Linked DNA regions of Homo sapiens. The protein of the gene in region 3 interacts with the protein of the main gene of each other region in a biochemical or structural test. Each region holds a gene or a part of one and is shown on either strand. Other genes may lie near its edges.

Evidence for each region.
Region 1: of the proteins of ROCK2 (region 3) and PPP1R14B, one has a biochemical effect on the other in vitro, tested with the Homo sapiens proteins (one study listed by IntAct).
Region 2: the proteins of ROCK2 (region 3) and CDKN3 form a complex in vitro, tested with the Homo sapiens proteins (one study listed by BioGRID).

Annotation. Positions count from the first base shown.
Region 1 is NC_000011.10:64,243,294-64,251,854, forward strand, and holds PPP1R14B (protein phosphatase 1 regulatory subunit 14B), read right to left. Parts: upstream 3,651-8,561; 5' UTR 3,381-3,650; coding exon 3,123-3,380; intron 2,797-3,122; exon of another isoform or gene 2,573-2,796; intron 1,995-2,572; coding exon 1,911-1,994; intron 1,670-1,910; coding exon 1,637-1,669; intron 1,530-1,636; coding exon 1,461-1,529; 3' UTR 1,186-1,460; downstream 1-1,185. Other genes in the region: peptidyl-prolyl cis-trans isomerase FKBP2, read left to right, coding at 1-18, 158-204, 548-583, 675-736; PLCB3 (1-phosphatidylinositol 4,5-bisphosphate phosphodiesterase beta-3), read left to right, coding at 8,357-8,455. UniProt on the Homo sapiens protein: Inhibitor of PPP1CA. Has over 50-fold higher inhibitory activity when phosphorylated.
Region 2 is NC_000014.9:54,413,129-54,421,048, forward strand, and holds the end of CDKN3 (cyclin-dependent kinase inhibitor 3), read left to right. Parts: intron 1-2,770; coding exon 2,771-2,802; intron 2,803-4,719; coding exon 4,720-4,823; intron 4,824-5,085; coding exon of another isoform or gene 5,086-5,145; exon of another isoform or gene 5,146-5,178; intron 5,179-6,863; coding exon 6,864-6,950; 3' UTR 6,951-7,090; downstream 7,091-7,920. UniProt on the Homo sapiens protein: May play a role in cell cycle regulation. Dual specificity CC phosphatase active toward substrates containing either phosphotyrosine or phosphoserine residues. Dephosphorylates CDK2 at 'Thr-160' in a cyclin-dependent manner.
Region 3 is NC_000002.12:11,180,327-11,188,534, forward strand, and holds part of ROCK2 (rho-associated protein kinase 2), read right to left. Parts: intron 6,598-8,208; coding exon of another isoform or gene 6,546-6,597; exon of another isoform or gene 5,459-6,545; intron 4,444-5,458; coding exon of another isoform or gene 4,353-4,443; exon of another isoform or gene 4,340-4,352; intron 3,115-4,339; coding exon 3,111-3,114; 3' UTR 1-3,110. UniProt on the Homo sapiens protein: Protein kinase which is a key regulator of actin cytoskeleton and cell polarity.

The DNA.
Region 1 (8,561 bases), on a different chromosome or scaffold from region 3:
GGACCAGGGGCTGCTGGGGTGAGTCATGGGGGAATGGGCTTGGGAGTGGGGGCGTGCATGGCCACCGCCCAGGAGGTAAGCTGTGGGAGGCAAGCCCCAGGGATACAAGACAAGGGCCCTGGGTGCTGCCATGGGCTGAGCATGTGTCTTCCTGCAGGATGTGTGAGGGGGAAAAGCGCAAGCTGGTGATCCCATCCGAGCTAGGTAAGAGGCCCCTCCTGAGGGTGCAGAGCGAGTTTGGGGTGTGTGACTGGGAAGGGTGAAAGCTGCTTCAGCTTTTCATTGGTCTTCACCGTATCCATTCATTACAATACATGCCTCCTCCAAGTTTGGCTGTGTCTAGCAGTGAGTACAGGGCAAGATCATTGAAGCACTCAGCTGTAGTGGCCCCACTCTGCCCTTGCCAGGCCTTTGGCACCCCCTTCCCATCTCCATTACCCTTCTCCATTTCTGGCCTTCTTGCTGAGAGGGGCGGAACACTCTCCCTTTGCCCACACTGGAAGGGAGCTTGGCCATCACTGACTGTTTCTTTGTGCATCTTCAACAGGGTATGGAGAGCGGGGAGCTCCCCCAAAGATTCCAGGTAGTAAACCTTTTGATACCTCCCATCACCTGCAGCCAGCCCACCTCCCTGTGGCCCTGGTTGGCATTTTGACTCCCCTTCTCCCCTACAGGTGGTGCAACCCTGGTGTTCGAGGTGGAGCTGCTCAAAATAGAGCGACGAACTGAGCTGTAACCAGACTGGGGAGGGGCAGGGGGAGAGGCCCCCATCAGGGACCAGACTGTTCCAAAAAAAAAACAAAAAACAAAAACAAACAAAAAAACACTTAAAAGCCCAAGGAGTAAGCCTGTGTGTGTTTGTGGGCCCTGAGAGACTCAGAGACCTCAGCTCCAGCATACCCCACCACCTTCTCCTTTCCCGACTGTGGAGCCTTGGGGGTCTAGGCTCAATGACATGGTGGCCCTTGCCCAGAGAGAAAGGAGTGTTCCTGCCTGCCAACAGCAATACTGCTCCCCCCACCCCCACAGCTCCCCAGCCACTTTCAACTCCTGGTCTGGGAGCCAGCACTGGGCTATCGTCATGGCTACGTGGCCCTTAGGAAGGCCTGTGGTCACCTGGGGAGAAGCTGAGCTGGCAGAAGTCAAAGAGCAGTGTGCCCCCCTAAAAGAGACCAGCCGAGCCTGTTAGCTGCACCAAAGGCGTATCCTAGCTTTATTAAAGGGCCCGCGCCGCAGAGTCAATATAAAAACACAAAAAGTCCCATCAGTTTAATAACAATAAAAAACCCCAAAAGTGGAAAACTGAGGGGGCAGGGGAAGAGACCCCTGGGCCAGGGGCACGAGGAGCCCTGCTCATGGCACCAGGCCTGGCCGCAGGGTCCCCCGGTATTGCTGTTGCTACGAGGTTGGGGGGCAGCGATTGTCCTGTGGGAGCCACCGTTCTCCTGGGTCGGGGACCGTCACTTCTTCTGGGGTGTGCTCAGCTTCTGCATGCCCCGGATCTTGTCCAGCAGGCCAGAAATGAAGGCCTGGATGGGGTGGGAGGGTAAACATTAAGGAGACCAGACCCCAAGATGACAGGAGCCGGGCTCCCCTCACCCTGCCACCCCCGCCAGCCCCCCAGGAAATCTCTTACCTCTGTGGGTTTGTAACAGTCAACCAGCAGCTCCTAGCAGAGGATGGGGGAGGAAGGATAAGTGAGTCCTCAGGAGTGGGGGCCTGGAGCTCGCCTATACCCACTTCCAAGAGACTGGGGCCACCCTGAGGCACAGGAGATGCCACAACAACCTCACAGCTAGGCATTGGCCCCATTCTGTTGAGGCAGGAGCTGGGGCTTGAGGGCCTGGCTCCACAGCCTCACTTTCCCGGGGCAGTGCCTCAGGCAACCCATCGCCCCCCAGCCCCCTCACCTTGACCCTGGCAGCCCGGGCATCGTCACTCTCCATGTCCAGGAGCTCATCCACGTCAATCTCCAGTTCTGGGATCTCCTCTTCCTGGGGTGGGGGTGGGGGAGGAGGGAGAGACATAAGCCTGAGTTGGAGAGAGGGTGTGAGAGGGGCTCTGGGTTGAGGCCCCTGCCTACCTCGGAGGAACCCAGCCCTCTGCCCAGCAGACAGAACAGCAGCTGCTCTGGGGAGGAAAACAGATCAGGCCCGTGCCAAGGCAAACTGCCCAAAGCGGGGTGGGGGGGGGAGCTTCCTGTCCCTGCCAGTGGGCACGGGGGGTGACAGACAAGGCCAGACAGCCAGGGTTGGGGACCTTGGGCTGGGAACCCAGCAGATGTGTCTCCCCAACATCCGGGCCCCCCATCTCACCAGAGCACCGGTGGGTGCAGCTGTCCCAGCTTATCATACCCCCCTCCCCTCCCCCAAACACCTGTCACAGCTCCCCGGGAGTGAGGAGGAAGTGAAGGCTGAGGGGTCACTGGGAAGGACCCAGGCCTGGCAAAGAGGAAACAAAGAGCCCATGCTTTGGTGAGGGAGGGGATGCCCACCACCCTGCCACACCCTCCCCAGGAAGCCCCTATCCTGTTTGTAGTCAGCTGCATTCCAGGGCTGGGCTAGGGTAGGCAGGCAGCACCGGGCAAACCCACTCCTCCACCCTGCCCCCCGGGGCCTGAGTCACCGTCTGAACAACCAGGGAGTCATGGGGGTGGAGAAGCAGAGCCCAGAAAGCGGGCTAGCCTGCACGCACGCCAAGATGGAGCTCCAGGCTAGCCCACAGAACAGCCCAGCCGCAGCCGTCCTACCAGACCAGCACCTTGTAACCACAGTCTAACCCAGCGGGCACCAGGCGGTGAGACCTCCTGCCGCTGCCAGCCCAGGATAGCCCCCTTGCCTCTTGCCCAAGGCTCAGGCTACCCCTTGAGGCGTCTGGAGGACACTAGGCTTGACCTGGGGAGTGGCATGATGGGGGGCAGGGTCCGAGGCAACGGAGAAGGCAGAAGTGACTTAGGTCAGGCAAGAAAGAGTATATATTGGGGGCGGGAGTGCAGAGGGGAGGGGAGCGCGCGGGGAAGCAAAGCGCCCTTTGACTCCAGTGACAGGCGAGCTCACAGTGGAGCTGCCAGGCGGACCGGCGCGAGACCGATTTTGGGGTGTCGGCGCGGGGTGGGAACACACCTGGCAGTCGTAGAGGCGCGTGAGCTGCTCCAGGATCCACTCCTCTAGGTTGAGGCGCTTCCGTAGCTCCTTGCGGTCATACTTGACGGTGACCTTCCCTTGGCGCCTCACTGGGCCCTCATCGTCCGCCCCGCCCGGGCCCTCTCCTGCGGCCCCGGGGGGGCTCTGAAAGTAGACGCGTGGTCCTGGGCCGCCACTGCCCGGCCCGGGGGCCGGGGCCGCCAACGCCGCGCCCCCCGCGGTGCCGCTGTCCGCCATGGCGGCCGCCGGGGCCACGTGCGAGCGTCGGGCCCCTCCCTGCGCCACCGCCTCCGGGACGCCCGCCGGCTGGCTCGGGTTAGCTCGCCGGCTCCGCTCCGCGCGGCTCCGCGGCGAGGGCGGCGGCGGGGGCGCCCGGGGGCAGCTGCAGCATGCGGAGCCCCCGGGCTTGGCCTGGCCGCGCCCCGCCCCCTCCCCGCCGATCCGCCCGCCCTTTGTCCCCCGCGGCCGCCGCCCGAGCTGCAGCCGCCGAAGCGCTTTCTCTGTCTCGCTCTTCCTCCGCCCCCCGACCACACCCCCTTAAAGGGCCAGCCCCTCTACAGGCCCCTCTCCCCTACTCCGCCCCCGGGCAGGGGTAGGGGAGGGTCTATTCGGCAGGGGGTGGCCTAGCTGTCCGTACTCCCCAAACGCAACCTTCCAGTCCCAAACCCAGGCGTTCTAAGCGCTCAGGACGACGATTTGCGCTCACGCCAGGACCCTAGTCTTCATTGGACCCTTCCTCATTCTGTCCTCATTGAGGCCATCTGAGAATAGGGGCTATCTGAGAATGCAGGGGAGTGGACATCGTGTGCAGACAGGGAGTCTGGTGAGGAGACGCTGCGGTCCCCGATGTCCAGGTCCTCCAGCCCTCGGCCAGCGAGGAGCGAACGGGCTCCTCCGCACGGACCGACACGTGGACTGGGCTCCTGGGAAAGGAAGAGTGGAGAAGGCGGGCAGGAGCTGTCCGGGTCCCTAGACTCTCCGAGTAGCAGGTCCCACGCCCCCAGCGGAAGAAGCCGGGGCTGGGGGTGAGCGGTGGCACCCGGCCGGCCCAAACGGCCAACCCCGGGCAGCCACCGCCCACCGGCAAGATGGCGCGAGGCTCGGGCTTGTGGGAAACGGAGTCCGCTCCCGGCGCCGCCCCTCCCCCGCCCTGCGGCCAGGCCGGGAAGCGCAAAGTTGTTTGGGGCGTCCTCTGCGCCTCGCGACCCGAGTGCGCACAGAGGGGGAAACTAAGGCGCAAAGAGCTGGGCAGTGCGGGGGCCGCGACTTATAATAATAAAGGCGGTAATTGCGGCTGACCCTAGGAGCGTGCGTCGGGACCGCCGCCCAGTCGGCTCCGCAGAGAGGGCGCCGTGCCGGGGCTCCTGCACCCCCGCCCTGCGGCTCCTCGGTCCTTCACATAGCCCTGGCCCACCTCCAATAAGCCGACGGCGCATCCCATTCCCTCCCTCTATTTTATTTTCTGCATCTTTAAATGGTCTCATTCATTCGTGTATTGTCTGTCTCCCACTTCTAGATTGTGAGTGCCACGGGGCTGAGGCCTGCGCCGACCTGGTCTGCTGGTGCTACCAGGCTTGAACAGTCTTCAAATCCACTGCTATTAGGCAAATTACCTGGCTCCCGCTGAACTCCAGCACCTAGAACTATGTCACACTCGTAGTAGGCCGCTGCATTGGTTGAACAAATGATTTTGAAAGAATGAATGTCTTCCTCTGTGCCTGCATTTCCTCAGAAGGCTGTAACAAAGATTAAATAGGAAAATTCGTGGAAAGTTCAATTACTACACCACAGAGGTTAATTAAGTCGCACTGCTAGATAAAACGGGAGACGAGACTTTGAACCCAGGCTGTGTGGCTCAAACCCCCTGACACGAAGTCTCTACTCAACCTCCTCACTACCCTGTAGACACCACCCAATAAGGCTGCGCAGCTCCCGGGGGATGTTTCTGTGGAAGGCAGGCTCACCTTGTGCCACCCCAAACAGGGTCTTGGATCTGAGAGGCAATGTTTCTGCTCCAGCCCCTCAAAGACACTCTTTGGATGTTGTGGGGGGAAGCCCTCTGCAGCGGGTGGGGTTCAGAGATGGATTGGGATTGGCCCCGGGGTCACACAGCTGGGGCTGCATCCAAACTCCAACCCAGGATGTTGGGCTCCTCCTTTGCCCTATAGTCAGAGAGAAGAGACCAAGAGAAGACAGAGGCTGGGCATTGTGAAGGCAATGGGCTCACAGGGCTCAGTTCAGGGAAGGGTAGAGTGAGCTGACCCCTCCCCTTCCCGTGCCCCTCCTCCGGCCTCAGCCTCCCTTCAGCCAGTCTGGGTGCCGAGGAAGGGCTGACCCTCGCTCTTGCGGATTAGGTAGGATCCACCCTCTCCACCGGGAGCCCTATCCGTGGCCTGGCCTCCTGCCCTAAGCCTGGCCTGATAGGAGGATCACTTTACCCCAGTCCAAATTCCCCACCACACCCCACCAGGCCAGGCCAGCTCCCTCTGAACCCAAGCATTGTTTGTACCTTGAGGGTGCACACAGATTAAAGGGGGAAGACCCTCAAACAGCCCCTAATGCCCAACAGCTTCTGTGGAAGTGGGGCCTGCAGGCCATGAAGACCCCCAGCCCTAGCTCTGCCCCCAAGATGCTGTGACCCTGAGCCCTGACCTTTCTGTCTGTCCTCCCTCAGGGTTGGTGTGAAGGTCTCCAGCCATGTCCGTGTCCACAGGTCAGGCATTCTTTCTGACTCTCCCTCTTCCCCCCACCGCGCCATGCCCAGGCACACCCAGATTCCTGTCCAGTTCCCATGGCTATCCACCCGAGACCACTTGGTGCAGGTGGGCATGCTGGCCTGCCACCTTCTTGGAAGCTGGGCCACAGAACCTTAGCCTTGGAGTAGAAATACTGGGTTCAAATCCTGGCTCTGCCCCATGGGCTGAGAGGCTGTATGCAAGTCACTTACCTGCTCAGAGCCTCTTCAGGGGGCTTATGGTCCTGACCTCCTGTGGTTGGGGGCCCATGCCCAGCCCTGGCCCTCCTGCCTGAGCCCTACTGGGACTGGAGTGTACCACTGCTCCTCCTCCTTCTAGCCTCAGTCTGTGGCCTCCCCAGCCCTACCCCTTCCAGGGCCCCAGCCCCCCTCCATTAGAGTGCATCCTTGAAGCAGAGGCTCTGGGGAGGGTCCTGTGGGTCAAGACCGCTCCTTCAATCAAGGGTAGAGTCCGGAAAGGCTGCCTGCCTTCACCATTACTGCCTGCTGAGATACCCTATTACCATTACCAAGGATGGAAGAAAGTGTCTGGGAAGGAAGGAGCCCTGTAATGGGGGCTGCCCTGGCCTCCAGAGACACAGGGTTGGGGGAGGAGAGAGGCTTAAGCCCAGGAAACAGGTGCCCATCCTGTTTTTTTCCACAAGGAGCTGCTGCCCAATGCTTCTCTAAAGTACGCTTGCACAAGGCCTAGGGCCCACAGCTCAGATCCCCTAAGCTCAGGCCTTGGCTCCAGGCTTTGCTAGCCCTGGCACAAGCTGGAGGTTCCACTGCCCCAGAGCTGACCTATGCCCTTTCCTCCCTCCCTGGTATACCCACAGCTTCCAGCTACTCATGTCAATTTGGCATCTCCCACCCATTTGCTTATGTATACAACAACCTTTAGGTTCTGGACAAGGTGACTGAGGCACCTAGAGAGACTAGGTTCTGCCACTAGCAAGAGGCTGCTAGCAAGAGCCGGATTTGAACTCCAGCCTGTGAGGGCAGAGGCCAAGCTCCACCTTGCATGGTTCTGTTTTCCCAATGAGGTCTAGAGGCTCCTGGGCCTCAGGAAGTCGGAGGGTTGAAATCCTCCTAAGAAGCTGTGTGACCTTGGGCAAGTCCCTTCCCCTCTCTGGGCCTCAAGTGGAGATCATAATCACACCCCACAGGGCCAGGGCTGAGAGCGAGGAGATCCGCCAGGTTAGAGTTGATGGAGAACTTGGCGGGGTGTGGAGGAAGGCCAGGGCCAGGCAGGGCTCCTTGTGGAGGTCTCAGAGCCTGGGGCAAAGGGGCCTGCAGGGGAGCTCCTCCTTTGCTGACCCCTCCTCCCCCAGAGCCAGCTGCATCTCTTTCTGGGTTTCTAGGTGACTTGGCTGGCCCCTCTGGATGAGTTCTACTTTAAACCTGCTGCTGTTACTGCCTCTGTATTGGGGGGGCTCCCACAGGGGCCCCCAGGCAGGAACCCCCCCCACCAGCTAAGCCCTGCGGGAGGGGCTGCAGCCCCCACCCATCCCATTGCCCATGCGCCTTCCCCGCTCCCATCTCTGGAACGCAGATTTCAGGGCACCTGCTGTGGGCCAGGCACTGCAGAGCCCCTCCTCAACCCTCCTGTCTGGGGACATCCACAAAGCTTCTGACCCCTCTGGGCAGACAACAGCGTTCCCCCCGCGGTTCCCAGCCAAGAGGCTCACAGTCAGGTTCCAGTCATGGGAGTCTGCAGCAACAAGAAGGGGGCTGTTCTAGGGCTCACTCTCGAAGACCAGGATGCTTGGGTCCTTAAAGGAGGTGGCAGGCGCCCGGCCTCCCTGGGCTAGGGACGGGGGAGGGGTGCCTGCCGGCGGGAGGTCCATTAGCCGGCTAAGTGCTCCCAGGGAGGGGGGACCGCGCGGCATAAGAGTGGGTGAGGCGAAGCCAGGGCAGAGGGGGGCGGAAGAAGCTTTTCCTGCATTCAGCTAAGTGCGGCAGAAGAGGGTGGGCGACAGGGCTGTGCAGCGACCCCCCGGCCCAAGTCTAGCCCTCCGCTGGTACTGCAGCCCTAGTCGCTCGGAAACCTCAGTGGGCTGATCCCGGACCGCCTTAAGCAGCGCCCTCTACACCCAGTCCCTCCAGCTGCTCCCCAACAGCCACTTCGGCCCCCAGCGCCCTCCTTCCACCACAGGCCTGAAGAATCAGGTTCTGCTGAGCCCCGCAGCAAAGCCCCCGACCCGTCCGCGTGCCCCTGCCCCAATCCCCGCTCCGGCTGCAGTCGCCGCCCCGGCCGCCAGGGGGAGCCGACGCGGTGGGAGGGGGCGGGGCCCGGGAGGCCCCGCCCCGTCCCCGCCCCGCCCGGGCCCCGCCGAGGCTCTGGTCGGTCCGGGACAGACTGGCGGGCGGGCGGGCACTGACGCCGCGGGGCCGGAGCGGGCCGCGCGGTGGGAGCAGCGGCGCCGTCGGTCCCCGTCAGGGCTCCGTGGGTCCCCGACCCGCCCCTGGCCGGGCCATGGCGGGCGCCCAGCCCGGCGTCCACGCGCTGCAGTTGGAGCCGCCCACCGTGGTGGAGACCCTGCGGCGCGGGAGTAAGTTCATCAAATGGGACGAGGTAAGCGCGCGGGCCCCTGCTCCGCCCAAATCCCGGGACTCTTTCAGTCAAGCTCGACCAGACGCTGGGGACCCCCACCCCAGCCTCGCCTGCCCGTGGCGCCACC
Region 2 (7,920 bases), on a different chromosome or scaffold from region 3:
GTAGAGAACTAGAAGCCATTCTACATCCTATTGTTTCCCATCTTCCTCTATGGAAAAAGCATAGTCACTTAACCAGTACTAATTATAAAAGCTAAATTTCAAATAGATCCAGTTGATGATGTGAAAGTTTCTGATACATATAGGTAAAATAGTATTAGATAGTTAAATGTAGCTGGGGAAAAATATTTTCCAACATAGGGCCCTATTTTTCAAACCATTTTGAGATCTTTTTTTTTTTTTTCAAATAAATTTTTGAAAGCAGCCTCTACTGAAAAGTTTCCAGAAATCAAACTAGCTCTGTTTAGTGAAGTGAAGCTTAACAAATTCTACTGTAGCTGGTTCTGGCAACCCAAATGCTCTGATGTTTGTGCAGAGTACAAACAGGATAGACAGTAGATGGGTGACTTTGCATATGCTGAATGTTTCAGTCTCCCATAAAATAAAGCATCTGACAACTGGCATTTTTCATTGTCCTAGAGCTTTCGAAGGTGTCCTACGGTGACTAGTTTATTTTCTATCCATTCTGCCATCTTTGAGGACCCACACTTCTAGACAGCTATAGAGCTTATCCTTCAGCAACAGGATCTGGTAAACCTTTTTCACTGACCTGTTGTCTACCAGTGCTGTCTCACTGGTTCTGCCTGGACATTTGCAGCCCTTTATAAAATTAGTGAACAACACTGCTTGCCTACTGTATTTTGTAGTTTCTTGGGGCTATTGTAACAAAGTACCACAAACCAGGTAGCTGAAAACAACAGAAATTTCTTCTTTCCCATTTCTAGAGGATGTAAGTCCAAAATTAAGATGAGAGCAGAGCCATGCCCTCTGAGACTGAGGAGAGTCCTTCCATGCCTCTTCCTAGCTTCTGGTGGTGGCCATCAATCCATGGCAGGCCTTGGCTTGCAGCTGAATCCCTCCAGTCTGCCTCTGTCATCACACACTTCCTCGGATGTCTGTGTCTTTGCATGGTGTTGTCCTTGTGTAAGGACACTAGTCATCTAGGATGAGGGCCTGCTCTAATTCGTCTTAACTTGAATATACCTGCAAAGACTCAAATTCTGAATAAGGTCCCACTCACAGGTACAGGATAAGGACTTCAGCATGTCTTTTGGGGGGACATAATTCAACCAGTAACACCTACCGTGTACCACACGCCAAGACTACCAAACGAGGCACAGTCCCCACCTTCGAGGAACCTATAACTAACACTACCATTTAACTGCAATAAGACAGGAGAGGCAGCACACAGGAAAATGATCCTTTCTGTAGGAGCACAAAGGCATTTTAGGAAATGAAATTTGAGGTTTTAAAAGATAAGTAGGAATTCATCAAATAGAAGAAAAAAGATGAAAATAGCAAAAGGTATAAAATAGTATTAATCTTGCAAAAAGACACTGAAGTGTTCTATCTTGATCTTTTTTTTTTTTTTTAATAAGGCAGTTGTCTCTTCTCTGTCACCCAGGCTGGAGTGCAGTGGCACTGTCATAGCTCACTGTAGCCTTGAACTGCCGGGCTCAAGCGATCCTCCCACCTCAGGCTCCCGAGTAGCTAGGACTTCAGGTGTGCGCCACCGTGCCAGGCTTTTTTTTTTTTTTTTTTTTGGAGAGACAGGGTCTCACTTTATTGCCAAAGCTGGTCTTAAACTACTGGACTCAAGCAGTCCTCCCACCTTGGCCTCCCAAAGTGCTGGGATTATAGGCCTGAGCCATCATGCCCAGCCTCTCCCTTTATATGGTAGATCCAGATCTCTGAAACAGTTCTATGTCTGGAACACTTTGTGGAAAGCAAGTTCACGAGTAAGACTAGGGGTCAATACCTATTCAGTCCTCTATTTCACATCCTAAAGCAAAATATATATCTACAGCTTTACCTACAATACAATACAATACAATACAGTAATTGATGTCCATAACGATAAGTCATCCACACTAAATTAGGCTCAGTATACCCTCTAAGTACATTAGGAAGCATGTAATACATTTTTTAGGATCTTTGAAAATGACTTAAATGAATAGTTTTGCTACTGAGGATTAATCTCCATTTTTCTGGAAAATCCAGTTATACAAAACTGCTAATTTCTTTACAGTGCTAGATAACAGCAGCTAATGTTCATTTACTTCTTACTCTGCACAAAGCTGTGTTCTAAGTCCTTGGCAAATGCTCACTCATTTGTGAGCCTCATTTAATCCTCACTCTGATGTACATACTATTGCTATCACCATTTTAAAGGTGAAAAGGCTGAGTCCCAGAGAGATTAAATAACTTGCTTAGCTTTACACATCTAATAAGTGGCAGAGCCAGGACTGAAGCCCAGGCAGTGGTGCTCCAGAGCCCATGCTCCAGACTTCGGTGATACCCTATCTCTGGACTCCTTTAGATACATGAATGGTTATTATCTACATGGCATTTGTGCAGTAACCACTCAGATTTTGTTTAGACAGAGGAATAATCAAAGTGACAGTTGGTAAAAGTCTGATTTCTATCTATTGGTAACATGCTCCATTTCTCAGATGTGGATCTTGGAACCTAAAGAGGTCAATAAGAAGACTCTGCCTATCTTGATGCTTAGAGGTGTTCAGAATTCCTCCCAACAAAGAAATAAGCACACCTTGCTCTCAGTTGATTAAATCAAAAATATTTATTAATCTTCGTGTGCAAGGCACTGTGCTAGGCATTAGAGTTGTAAATAGAAGGCAGAAAGAGCAAGTCTTTAGTTGTAACTAGGGATGGAATGAAATGTACAAACTTCAAAACTGTATTTCCCTTTCAGCTGCTATGGAGGACTTGGGAGATCTTGTCTTGGTAAGAAATATATTTCTATTATTTTTTTAACCGCCAAATAGACAAACTTCTGTTTCCAGACCATATGTTCATTTTGTATTAAAATGGAACCAAGCAAAATATAAGTTTGCTAAGACTCAAAGGATTACTTAAGGCCCTAAACATGGTGTTCCCTGGAAAGCTTGGGTGGGAGTGGGAGGTATTTTCAGCATTGTTCTGGAGGATTCTGGCAAAACATCATTTACAAGTCTTAACACCTGCATTCTTATTTTTTAACATTTTTTGATGTTCTTCCTGTGGAGGTGTTATAATAGAGTAACTTCCAAATAGTTTCCATGGGTAACTATTTATGAATACCAAAGTTAATTACTATATGTTAATTTAAAAAATGTTTTAATGTACTAAGAAAAACAAAAAAGAGTTCGTGAAATGCCACACTGGAGTAGTAGTTATTTTTTTAGTGTTGGATGATATCAAAATTGAAAGCTTTTGTGTTTCAAAGAATACTATCAAAATGACAAGACTACCCATAGAATGGGAAAAAATATTTGCAATCTATATATTTGATAAGGGATTTGTATCCAGAATATAAAAAGAACTCTTACAACTCAGTAATAAAGATAGGCCGGGCGTCGTGGCTCATGCCTGTAATCTCAGCACTTTGGGAGGCCAAGGCAGAAAGATCACCTGAGTTTAGGAGTTTGAGAACAGCATGAGCAACATGGTGAAACCCCATCTCTACAAGAAATACAAAAATTAGCCAGGCATAGTGGTGCATGCCTGTAGTCCCAGCTCCTTGTGGGACTGAGGCTGGAGGACTGCCTGGGCCCAGGAGGTCAAGGCACCAGTGAACCGAGTTTACACCACTGCACTCCAGCCTAGATGACAAAGTGAGATCGTCTCTCTCAAAAGAAAAAATAATAATAATAAACAAACAACATAACTGAAAAATGGGCAAAGTATCCGAATAAACCTTTCTACATGCAAGATACACATATAGTCAGTAAGCACATGAGAAGATGCTCAACATCATCAGTCATCAGGAAATGCAAATCAGAACCACAGTGGATACCACTTGACACCAATTAGGAAGGGTATTATAAAAACATGAAAAATAACAAGTATTGGCAAGGATGTAGAGAAATTCGAACCCTCATACACTGTTGGTGGGAATGTAAAATGGTGCAGCGGCTTTGGAAAATAGTCTAGCAGTAGTTCTTCAAACAAGTAAACATTAACATATGACCCAGCAATTTCACTCCAAAGTATATACCCAAAGACTTGTATACAAATGTTTATAGCAGCATTAATCATAATAGCCAAAAAATGGAAACAGCCTAAATGTCCATCAGTTGACGAACAGATAAACACAATGTGGCATATCTATACAATGGAATATTATTTGATCATAAAAAGGAATTAAATACAGACATATGCTACAATATGTATGAACCCTGAACACATTATGCTAAGAGAAGTCAGACACACACAAAAAAATATTGTATGTTTCCGTTTATGTGATTGCTCAGAATAGGCAGATCTACAGAGACAAAGTACACTAGTGGTTGCCTATGGCAGGGGTTGATGGGGAATAGAGGATGACAGCAAAAGGGTACACTTCTTTCTGAGGTGATGAAGTGCTTTAAAATTGACTGTGGTGATGGTTGCACATATCTGTAAATATACTAAATCACTGAATGGATGAACACTTTAAATGGATGAAAGAATGAAGCCAGTGTTAAACTCTAATTCAACCATACGGTCATTTAAGATCATAATTTAACTGTCAAAAACACACACTAAAAGTCTCAGTCTTTTAATTCATTTGGAACAATTACACCAGTCTTCTGTATCAACAGAAGTCTTATTAAATATAAAATGCTGTACCCTGTCACTAGTTATTTAATAACATATTATTTTTCTGTCATGTTCCATTAGTAGCTGCTTGTCTCCTACTATACCTGTCTGACACAATATCACCAGAGCAAGCCATAGACAGCCTGCGAGACCTAAGAGGATCCGGGGCAATACAGACCATCAAGGTGAGGAGGTGGGCGGTGCTTGCTTGGTTGTGGTTGGGGTCGTTGTTACAAATACAGATTCATGTGTAACCAAAAGGTTACATATGAAAATCCAAAAGGGCAGTGAAATGAAAATCCAAAGCACTCTGTTATTCAAATACCACTTGCTTATGCTTTTAGTTTTTAAAAATTTACAAGTAAATATAATCCAGGTAGTCTAAAAAAGCACACAGGATTTCAAACAAGATAATGAAAATTTGAACTTCCTGGTTTACTTTTCCAGGATCTACCTACTTCTCAGTTTTTGCCCCAGTCCGTTTTGGGAATGGATCCTCTCACCTAGGACAATGAGATGGTTATTGTTAATACAAACTTGGTACGTTCTTGGGTAGATTCTTGGCCAAAAAAAATCTATGGAAGATCTTGTTATATCACCAAAACATTTAATAAAGACAGATGAATGACTATAATACAAAAAATGGAAAGCAGTGCTAATTATCCTTTGCAGTAGATAACTGGGGACATCTTCCACATGTACATTCCCCTAACACTTCAAAACACTGCACTAGCAATGCCAAGGATATTGCATTAATCATGTTACTGAAAAGATTCTGCAGATGTCACTTCATTTTGTAGATCTGTAAAGCTAATGTGCCTTCTTTTCAGAAGCGTGCCCTCTCAGCATTAGAATCCGCTCATCAGAGGAGTGGGCACCAAAGAATCCTGGCTGTTAGGCAGCTCCCTAGACTTGAGAGCCCATCTTCCCAGGGTTGGAGGTCTAATCCAGTGTCATTAACAGTGAATTATCATAATTACTGATAAATTCACCAAGCAACCTGATTCTTAGGGCTTAAATAAGGTCATTAACGGGACAATCCATACAAGATCCACTCCACTGTACAGGTCTGAAACAGACAACTCTCTTTATGTTAAAAATCAAACGATGCGGCCAGGCGCGGTGGCTCATGCCTATATCCTAGCACTTTGGGAGGCTGAGCTGGGTGGATCACTTAAGGCCAGGAGTTGGAGACCAGCCTGGCCAACATAACGAAACCTTGTCCCTACTAAAAATACAAAAATTAGCCAGGGTGGTTATGTGTGCCTGTAGTCCCAGCTACTTGGGAGCCTGAGGCACAAAAATCACTTGAACCTGGGAGGCAGAGGTTGCAGTGAACCGAGATCACACCACTGCACTCCAGCCTGGGCGACAAAGTGAGACCCTGTCTCAAAAAAAAAAAAAAATCAAATGATGCTTCAAATCCAAAAAGTTCACCTCTCTTCTCTTGAAAACAAACTACATGGCCATGGCCAGATGTATATATGAATATCCATATGTTTTACATCTTTAACATTGCAGATAATTAAGTCCATATTACTACAGACTCAGTTTATCACCTCAGCATTCTGTGGCAAACAGGCTTGCTGGTGTTAGCAATGCAGTTTCCACATCTCAATAAGGATATGAAATGAGATGATTGGCAGAGTAAGAATATCTTTTGGGAGGCTATTAAAACTCCAAATAAATTATTTAAAGCTTTTATTTTGCTTATCTGCTGAGATTAGCAATACAGTTTGTTTTTAAAAAATATTGTCTATGAAAATTATCCCTAGTGCATTATGTCATCACAAAAAAGCAGAAGACTAGGGCTTCTATAAATTGAGAAATGGATTTTGTTAAATATACCAGTTACTTGCTACAGAAAGTGCTCTGTCCTTCTTACCAGGGGGGAAAAATGTTAGCAAAAATAATGCCATTATGTACTGTTTTAATCTTATTTGGTCCTGTAAGTAAAGAGAGAAAGAATTTTAGACTTAAAACATATCCATCTACATTTCATTTCACCTTCTGATTTTTAGAGACTTGTAGAACAATAGTTTTTCACACTATATGGCTTTACTAAAAGATAAAACTTCCCCATGATGCAAATGCTTCCTTACCCAAAAAGATGTAGAATTGTGCTTAGCAAGTATTTTTTTTTATTCCTGATACCTGCTAATATTGTGCCCACACTGATAACTAGTTTTCTACAGTGTATTCCAATGTATCTTTACTTTTTTCAGCAATACAATTATCTTCATGAGTTTCGGGACAAATTAGCTGCACATCTATCATCAAGAGATTCACAATCAAGATCTGTATCAAGATAAAGGAATTCAAATAGCATATATATGACCATGTCTGAAATGTCAGTTCTCTAGCATAATTTGTATTGAAATGAAACCACCAGTGTTATCAACTTGAATGTAAATGTACATGTGCAGATATTCCTAAAGTTTTATTGACAAAACTCGTTGTGTCTCTTTCATTTCTTATAGGAATAGGAAAATTGGGATAGGAAAATTGGTATGCAATTTTCCTTTTAGAAATGAATTGGTTGTTCTGGTATATTCTACCTGGAGGTAATGCTGAAAACATGCATTTGGAAAAATATTTGAATGCCTATTTTTAATACTTAGTACTGCACTTTTACTTCATTTTACTGTTTGTAACCACTGGGTAGCATATGACAAAGTAGTAAGTATGAGAATTGGTATGAGTGCCCAAACTTACTTTTAAATGATGTCCCCCTCCCTCTCTATTCCTCCCAAAACTTCTTCCGCTTTTTACTTCATAGACCTCCGGAATTGAAAAGGATCCTGTGAGTCTTCCACTCGCCCCCTCCCAGTACTGGATCAGCCCCAAGGGTGTTTATTCACTATGGGCTGGAACATTTTCAGAGACAAGGAATTCACTGGTTCAGACAGCTGCTCCACCTTTTGTCCGCCCTAGGAACTACACGGAATGAGCTTAATCCTTTCACATTTATTTCATAAAGAATTTAGCTACAGATTAACAATTTCCAACTCTCTCACTCTTTCACTTCCCCCTATACTATGAAACCTATCTTTTTTCATCTTTAAATTCAACTTTGAGTTACCCAAAACAGTCATTTGGGCTGTAGACAAGGATCACACACAATGTGTCAAACAAACACACTTGTTTTAACAGTCAGTGGTTTCAGTAGGGCTTACAGTAGTCACATGGCTCTCTTGGCTACTGGTAATTACAAGTGTGAACCAATGGCAATTTGGCAATGACCACCAGGTTGCAGACTCATAGGCACTTCCACAAAAGACA
Region 3 (8,208 bases):
ATGGATGCAAAATAGATACTTTAGAGCCAGATTCATGTAACTCTAACACAGGTTAGTTTTAAAGGCACTAACCTTTACTTTGGCTTTACTGGTATGCTTATCCATTAGTTAGCTGGAACATTTTAAAACTTTCATATAGATTTTTAAAACTTGTTTCTAGAGAACATGGTTTTTTAAAATTAATACTTTAAAAACATTCACTGTACATTAATTTCAACAGTAATACCGGCACCAGTTTTCCTTTCACTTCTGTCTCGTTATCCCCACAAAACAAAAGTAAAAAATCCAATAAGAAAATCCCAGTATTCATGATTTCTTAGTTCCCCATAGGAGGTATTTATGGTTCTAGGAGAAATCAGGTGTGAAGGAACAAGCAAATTTTAGTCTTATATTTATCTTGGAAGCTTCAGGGCCTCAAGAAAAACGAGAAACGAGCACAAAATCAGGTTGTTTTATATTTAATAAGTGTTGGGAAGAAAACACATTGATAGGTGCATGCACTCATGTATGTACATGAAAGCGGCAATGCGGTAAAAAGCGAATTCTTACCCAAGGTCAGAATTTTTTATTAAGCGCATTTTCATTAGTTGGACAAACAACCTTATAAACCCTTATGTCAAACCATATAATGTGAAGAATCTCCATGGGAGAGATTTTTTTTTCACCCTTCAGAATTATCTTTTTCCCCTAAGACCTTCATATGAATCTTCCTTGTACAGTTGGTCACACCATGATTCCCCATATTCTCTAATATATACAGCATTCCAAATTTAAACTTTTGCCTTTTTTACTCAAATATTTCAGTTACTCATATGTAAACTTGAAATTATTTCACCTTAATAAAGTTTATTAAAAATATATATATATATATATATATATATATACTCTCCAATTCAGAATAGGATAGAACCTCCCATAATGTAACAAAATCTTTATATAAAATATTAATTCAGTCTCCTTTTAACAACTCTAATGAATGGAAATATTTATTCTATATAAATTTATATATTTTTCATTTTTTAATCTTACTTAAAAAAGAGCTATCCCCCAAAACCAGAGCTGCAGAACACACCTGCAAAGGAAACGGCATGCACGTCTAGTCTGAGCACAGACAGCACAGCAGAGTGCAGACTGGAGAACGTTAAGAATAACAAAACCAGTTTCAGTCTATCAGTAGGCCAGTAGCTACTCTTCAGTTTCCACAATAGTATCTATTATGGGGATCTAACTTTTTAAATATCTCTAACTGACATCAGAGGGAATCAATGAAAAATGTCTATTTCCTTCATCGAAATATTAGATGACTTTTTTTTTTTTTTTTTTTTGAGACGGAGTCTTGTTCAGCTGCCCAGGCTGGAGTGCAGTGGCTCGATCTTCGCTCACTGCAACCACCGTCTCCTGGGTTCAAGCGATTCTCCTGTCTCAGCCTCCCAAGTAGCTGGGATTACAGGCCACCACCATCATGCCCGGCTAATTTTTGTATATTGGTAGAGACGGAGTTTCACTATGTTGGGCAGGCTGGTCTTGAACTCCTCACCTCAGGTGATCCGCCCGTCTTGGCCTCCCAAAGTGCTAGGATTACAGGCGTAAGCCACCATGCCTGGCCAGATGATGTATTTAAATATCATACCAAACTCTGTGTATTTATATAAAGAGAGACTGTTAAAAGACTTCATAATATAAAAAAAAACAAAAACAAAAAAAAAACTTTACGCTTACCATTGCTGCATATTGTTGCAGTATAAAACACACACTTATCTGGGATCATGAGAATACGGCAAGAATGTCCTGCGTAAACTGTAACTTTGACAGCATTTAAAAAATAAAAATCAAATTAAGTGCCTTTGAGGCCACTTCTTCCCAGTTGCCAGTTTTCTTAACCCGGTACTAAAATACTGCCACACACAGCTGCATGTCTGAGGATCATATTTAAATATTTAAAATGCATCTACAGTCTGTCTTAGTTTTCTTTATATTTGGGAAAAATTTTGAATCTTAAGTGTGAAAATGTAATCACAAATGTCTTTACCAGGAATAAAAACACATCTAGGGTAGCCAGCAAATTTAAAGCAAATAAAATATTTTGTAGTCACAGACTAATACTGAGGTCTGTAAAAAGAGTTGAATGAATAATAGACAGACATCAAGGATATATTAGTTCCAACACCATCCATTATTGTTTCTATAACCAATAATACTTTAAAAACATTTGTTAATCAAAATAGGCTGACATTGATATAACTATTTATGTGTAAAAATAGTGCACGATTTATCTTCCACAAAGCTAGTTTACATCCTAAGAGCTGGTAAACGCTTTTTTTGTTTTTTAATACAGACAGGGCTGAGACTTTGAAAAAAATTAAATTAAGGCATTCAAAATGGGTAAAGTTGCCTATCATGAAGCATTAGGAAACTGATATAATTAACTTTAAACTTCTTGTTACAGTAACTGCTTAAACATGAACATGCAACTTCCATCAGGTACACAGGAATGAGTGATATAAACTCCAACATTATGGCTTTATACAAGTGCATAGTTGCAACTGCAGCAAGTAATGATATCTGATTAATGTGTATAAAAAATAAAGTGGGAAGTTTAAAAAACCTTCTTGCAGTATTAGAGTACTATATATATATATATATATGTGTGTGTGTTTATATATATATACACAGTATAATGGTCACTTCTTAAAGATGCAGTCAATATCACTGTAGTGGAATCCATTCCCAGATTCTTCTGGTAAATGTGCTGGTGAAACCTCTCTGTTGAAGCTAGAAAAGATGTTTTCTTTAGCCTTTAACTCTTCTCAATCCTTGTGTGCATTGTAGTGTGAGCGACTGCCGAGAGAGCTTTATGGAAAAGTCTGGAAGAGTTGCATATATCCTTAGTCTATCAACCAATCATTGTTGGTTCAACCTGTTGCTTCAAAGGAGCCCAGATTTGTAATTTATATTACAGGGAAAAGGGGAACACATATATGTATGAGTGTATGTATCAGTCTCTCAGGAAAATATAGCTTTTTAATAAATTTTGGGCCATCATATTTCAGTCTTGTTTTCACTGGAAGAATACGATCACCTTGAATAATGACTGCTTTCATAGAAGGCAGTTAGCTGAAAAGAAAGGAAAAATAAAGTTAGTTGATACAGTGAAATAATTTAAGAGTGTTAAATTCCTAGAAAAAGCATTCCATTCACATTATTAAACTATATAGTCTTCCAGCTACTATATTTTTTAACACTAAAATCATGCATAAACATACTTACTGTATTACTTTTCCTATAGGTACAACATGCAATTATATTCTTTCCCAAAACAACTTGGGATTTTGGAATATTAGCTACACACATTACACACACATTTTAATATGGTTAACAAGCTATTAGGGTTAAACAATATACCACAGAATAACTTAGAAGATAAAAGTTTGATTTGGGGTTTAACTGCCAGCTGCCTCATGTAGCTGAAAGGGAAATGGGCCTATTGATCAGGTTCTACTTGGCTGTTCAACCCTAAGCCACATTTTGTTTTTCTATAAGATAGGACCAACTACATTGTTGTAGTAAATATATACAAGCTACTCTATGAAATCTGATTATAAATAGATACCAGTACTACCTGATTTATGTTTTGCAACTTGCTTACTTAGACTAAAACACACATTATTTCTTTTAAATCCTTCTATGTAAAAGGTTTAACTTGAGGCTCAACTTTCATTCAAATCTCCTTTAGCCACTATTAACCAAACTATTTTACATTTTCTAAAAGCACAATTCTCACAGCGTATCACTGACATTCTTCAGCAAGGGTAACATTAAATTCTCACAAAGCAAACATTTCACAGCACCACACACAAAAATGCCAAATCAGAAATAGCTATTTCACAGCACTTATTAGACTTATAAAGTTTTTATGCTTTCAATTCTTGCAAGTTGGAAATAAAAGGAGAGAGATGGAGAAAGGAATCTCATGCTATGTTCACAAACTAATATAGCTGTAGGAACTTGAAAACGTTGTAAATTTTACTTCTCTTCTGAATATGGCTTCTTTGGAATGAACAGAACGTATCAGAATTAACTCCTTTTGTGATTTCTACATCTCATTCCTAAGATAAATTCTAACTGTACTAAAAATTTATAGCCAATAAAGAATCTGAACATAGCATTTCACTTTTACACTTAACATGTAAATTTCAGTTAGCAACTTTTCGAAAACTACTTTTAACTATATACTATTAAAAACAAGTTTCAAAAATAAAAAATAATGAAAGCCCAAGTGGCAAACCACATGCACTACGTTGAAGTACTAAAATAACTGATTTTTCATTTTTTGATTTACCCCATTTATTTCTTCAGAAATCAAAAACATCGTCATCATCATCACCACCACCATCAACATCATCAAATGACCAATCCCAGTCTTTAAATGCCAAATCAAGCAATCTGCAATAGGAGGTTTGTAAATTTATACTCTAACACTCTTTAGAAACTGTAACTTAATGTTATGACTTAGAAATCATACTTTGAATGTGCTTGTAAGCATTTTAATTTTCCCTTCATGGATAACAACAAGATTAAAATTAAGACGGACGCACATAGGGAAGCCTTGCCCTTTATATATAAATGCATATAATCATGTTGGCCAAGTACACTTTCCAGATATTTGAAGACAGCGATCATATTTGGGATAATAAGAAACAATCTGCTTCTCCCTCCTCACTCCCATACCCCAGATAAACACATAACCATCCTGATGCCCAGTTTGATTTGAGAATTATGAAAGCACATTTGTCAATGTTCCCCTTCACCAAAGTGGTCAGATTGTCAGCTCAGTTTTTCCATCATAGCACCAAAAACCATGGGGTAAAAAGGGAGTAATAGAATAAGAAAGCAGCTTTCTGAATTCCAGTAGGACCCTGCCTGCTCAATGTGTCACCAAGAGCTTTGTCCTGCATATGAAAAACTAGGGACAAGGGAAAAGCCACAGGTACATAAGTAGCATTAGCAAGTCATCTTGGCTAAATTGGACTTAGAGTTGGGATATATGTGGTCTTTTCTTTCTAATTCAATAACCTAAACTGTAATATTGCTATCATCTTTGTTTTTAAAAATAGCCACCTGGCCAGATGCGGTGGCTCACGTCTGTAATCCCAGCACTTTGGGAGGCTGAGGCGGGCAGATCACCTGAGGTGAGGAGTTCAAGACCAGCCTGGCCAACATGGTGAAACCATGTCTCTACTAAAAATACAAAAATTAGCTGGGCATGGTGGCAGGTGCCTGTAATCACAGCTACTCAGGAGGCTGAGGCAGGAGAGTCACTTGAATCCAGGAGGCGGAAGTTGTAGTGAGCCGAGATCGTGCCATTGCACTCCAGCCTGGGGAACAAGAGTGAGACTTCGTCTCAAAAAATTAATAAATAAATAAAAATAAAAATAAATAAATAATAAAAAAAAGCAGTAACTTTTTCATTTTTAAAACTGTGGTGTTCATGAATCAACTTGTGCCAAGGAACTCATCTGGTCCCCAAAGTCTCACCTGTAATCACTATTGTCAGTGGTTCTTATTTACACACTTCTAAAGTAAGAAACTTTAGTGTATATGATTTACCTACTGCTCTTTATAAGGCCTCATTCCAAGAGATTTAGATATGACTGAAAAGGGCCCAAATATTTGCATTTTCAAATAAAAAACCTGAGGCGATTTCTGATACAGCTGGTTAACTTTGAGAAACACTGACAGAATAGGTTAATGGATGATTACTCTAATTTAAAATAAACACAGCGACTCAAATTACTCTTTTAAAATGTGCTAAACACAGCACAACATTTGAGAAAACACACAAACAGATATAATTACTCACTGAACACATATCGCAACCTGGCACACACTCACTTCTCTAGACTTATATATAATGTAACTTATAGCCATAGTTTCAGCTCTACTGCTTGGGAGATTGTGATCAGCAGGCCTTCCAGGGCATCCAAGCCTCAGCTTTAGCATAGGTTAGGAGAAAGCTGCATTGCATACCCTTTCAAAACCTTTGAAGTGTGTGCCAGTGTCACAATCTCAAATTTAAGTCTAATCGCTAGATGCGACTGTAGTGTATGACGAGACTTCCCTTACAACCCTCTCCCTCATCCCTTCGAATCAGTCATCTAATTCTAGTTATTTCAACTGAAGAAATCTTTCCAAATCCAGGTTTATTTTCTTCGTTTTCATTGTCAAGTACTCAGTTCAGGATCTCATTAAGCCTGAATACCAATCCCTTACTGAAAGACTTCTACTTATAAATCAAAACTCCTGAGCACAGTGTACATGGAGCTTTTCAGTTGGGTTCAGACTTTCTCTCTAGTGTCACATCATCTTTTACCACTCCCTACCCTTGCCTTCTCCCAACGCCAAGCCAACACAAAATTACAAATACATAAGTAATTCTGATGACTTTGTACCTCTGCACATGACATTTTGCTTGGAACTGATTTTCCCTTATTTGTCTGCTTGTAAAATTATCCATCCTCCATTGTTTGAGATCTTTCTTAATGTCCTCAGGCAGAATTCTCCATGCTTCCCTCGTTTCCCCAAGCGCTCTGTTCATCCCTATATTATAAACAGCATTTTACATAGTACTGTAATTGCCTGTTGCTTGACTGTCTCCACCATTAACAGGGATATAGTTCAGGCCTGCGAAACTTATTGTCAAAGATGCTTTGGAAAGAGTGCATTTAATTTGGAGTTCTACCAGCAGTCCACAAAAGTACCCATTTCGTTTCTTAACCCGTGCCAGTTTGGCAGGTGAAAAATGGTTTTATGTTATAGTTTTAATTTAATGCTAATTTCTTAATACAGTAGTCCCCCCATATCCTTGTCTTCACTTTCCATGGTTTCAAGTTACCAGTGGTGAACCACAGTCTGAAAACATTAAATAGAAAAGCTCAAAACAACTTAGAAGTTTTAAACTGCCCAACGTTGTAAACAGCGTGATGACATCTTGTGCCATCCCACTCTGTCCTGCCTGGGATGTGAGTCATCCCTTTGTCCAGCATATCCATGCTTGTTAGTCACTTACTAATGGTCTTCATTATCAGATTTTAAAAAATTGTATGTGTACGGTCCAGTACTATTCGTGATTCCAGGCATCCACTGGGGGTCTTGGACTACATATCCCTTGAGATAAAGGGGGACTACTGTAATCAGGCTGATCACTTTTTTTTACATTTAACAGCTATTTCCATAATAATGCCTGCATGCGCCTCATTAATTTTGTATGGGGATGAGGCAATCTTTTTTCTCAATGATTTATAAGAACTTTTCGTATGTGAAGATACTAACTCATCTTTCTCATATATTTTGGAAATACATGGTGTTTTTTAAATTTACAAGGCTTTACTTTTGGGGTAGTTGATCTTTGGCTTTGTTTTCTTTGCTTTTATTATTTGGAAGTTCTTCCCCAATTCAAGATCAGGTATATATTCACCTATGGATTTATTTTTGACACTTCAAATTGTATATAACTTCATTATTTTCCCAAGTAGACTGTTAATTCTTTAACATTTAGAAATGAGGAAGAGCAAAGATAAGATAATAATGACACAATAGCTACTTCCTCCTTTAAGTTTTAACTGTGCTGCCATGTTTTACACTTCTTAAAACTCGGTAAGTGAGCATTTGTTACATTTTTGCTTTATACTTTTCTGCATGCATTAAATACTGCGTTAAAAAAAATCTTTAAAAGAAAAATAATTAAAGAGAAATACCCTCTAGCCAAACTGGTATATAATTTTTTTTTTTTTTTTTTTTTTTGTGTGACGGAGTCTCGCTCTGTTGCCTAGGTTGGAGTGCAGTGGTGCGATCTCGGCTTACTGCAACCTCCACCTCCTGGGTTCAAGCAATTCTCTGCCTCAGCCTCCCCAGTAGCTGGGATTACAGGCGCCTGACACCACGCCTGGCTAATTTTTGTATTTTTAGTAGAGATGGGGTTTCACCATCTTGGCCAGGCTTGTCTTGAACTCCTGACCTCAGGTGATCCACCTGCCTTGGCCTCCCAAAGTGCTGGGATTACAGGTGTGAGCCACCGCGCCCAGCCCAGACTGGTATATTTTTATCTTGCATTGAAACAAATTAGGACTCCCCAAATTGTCTTCATCAAAAATTAGCATTTTATTCACAAATTTCCTACTTTTCCAGTATGGCATTTTAATTTTAATTCAA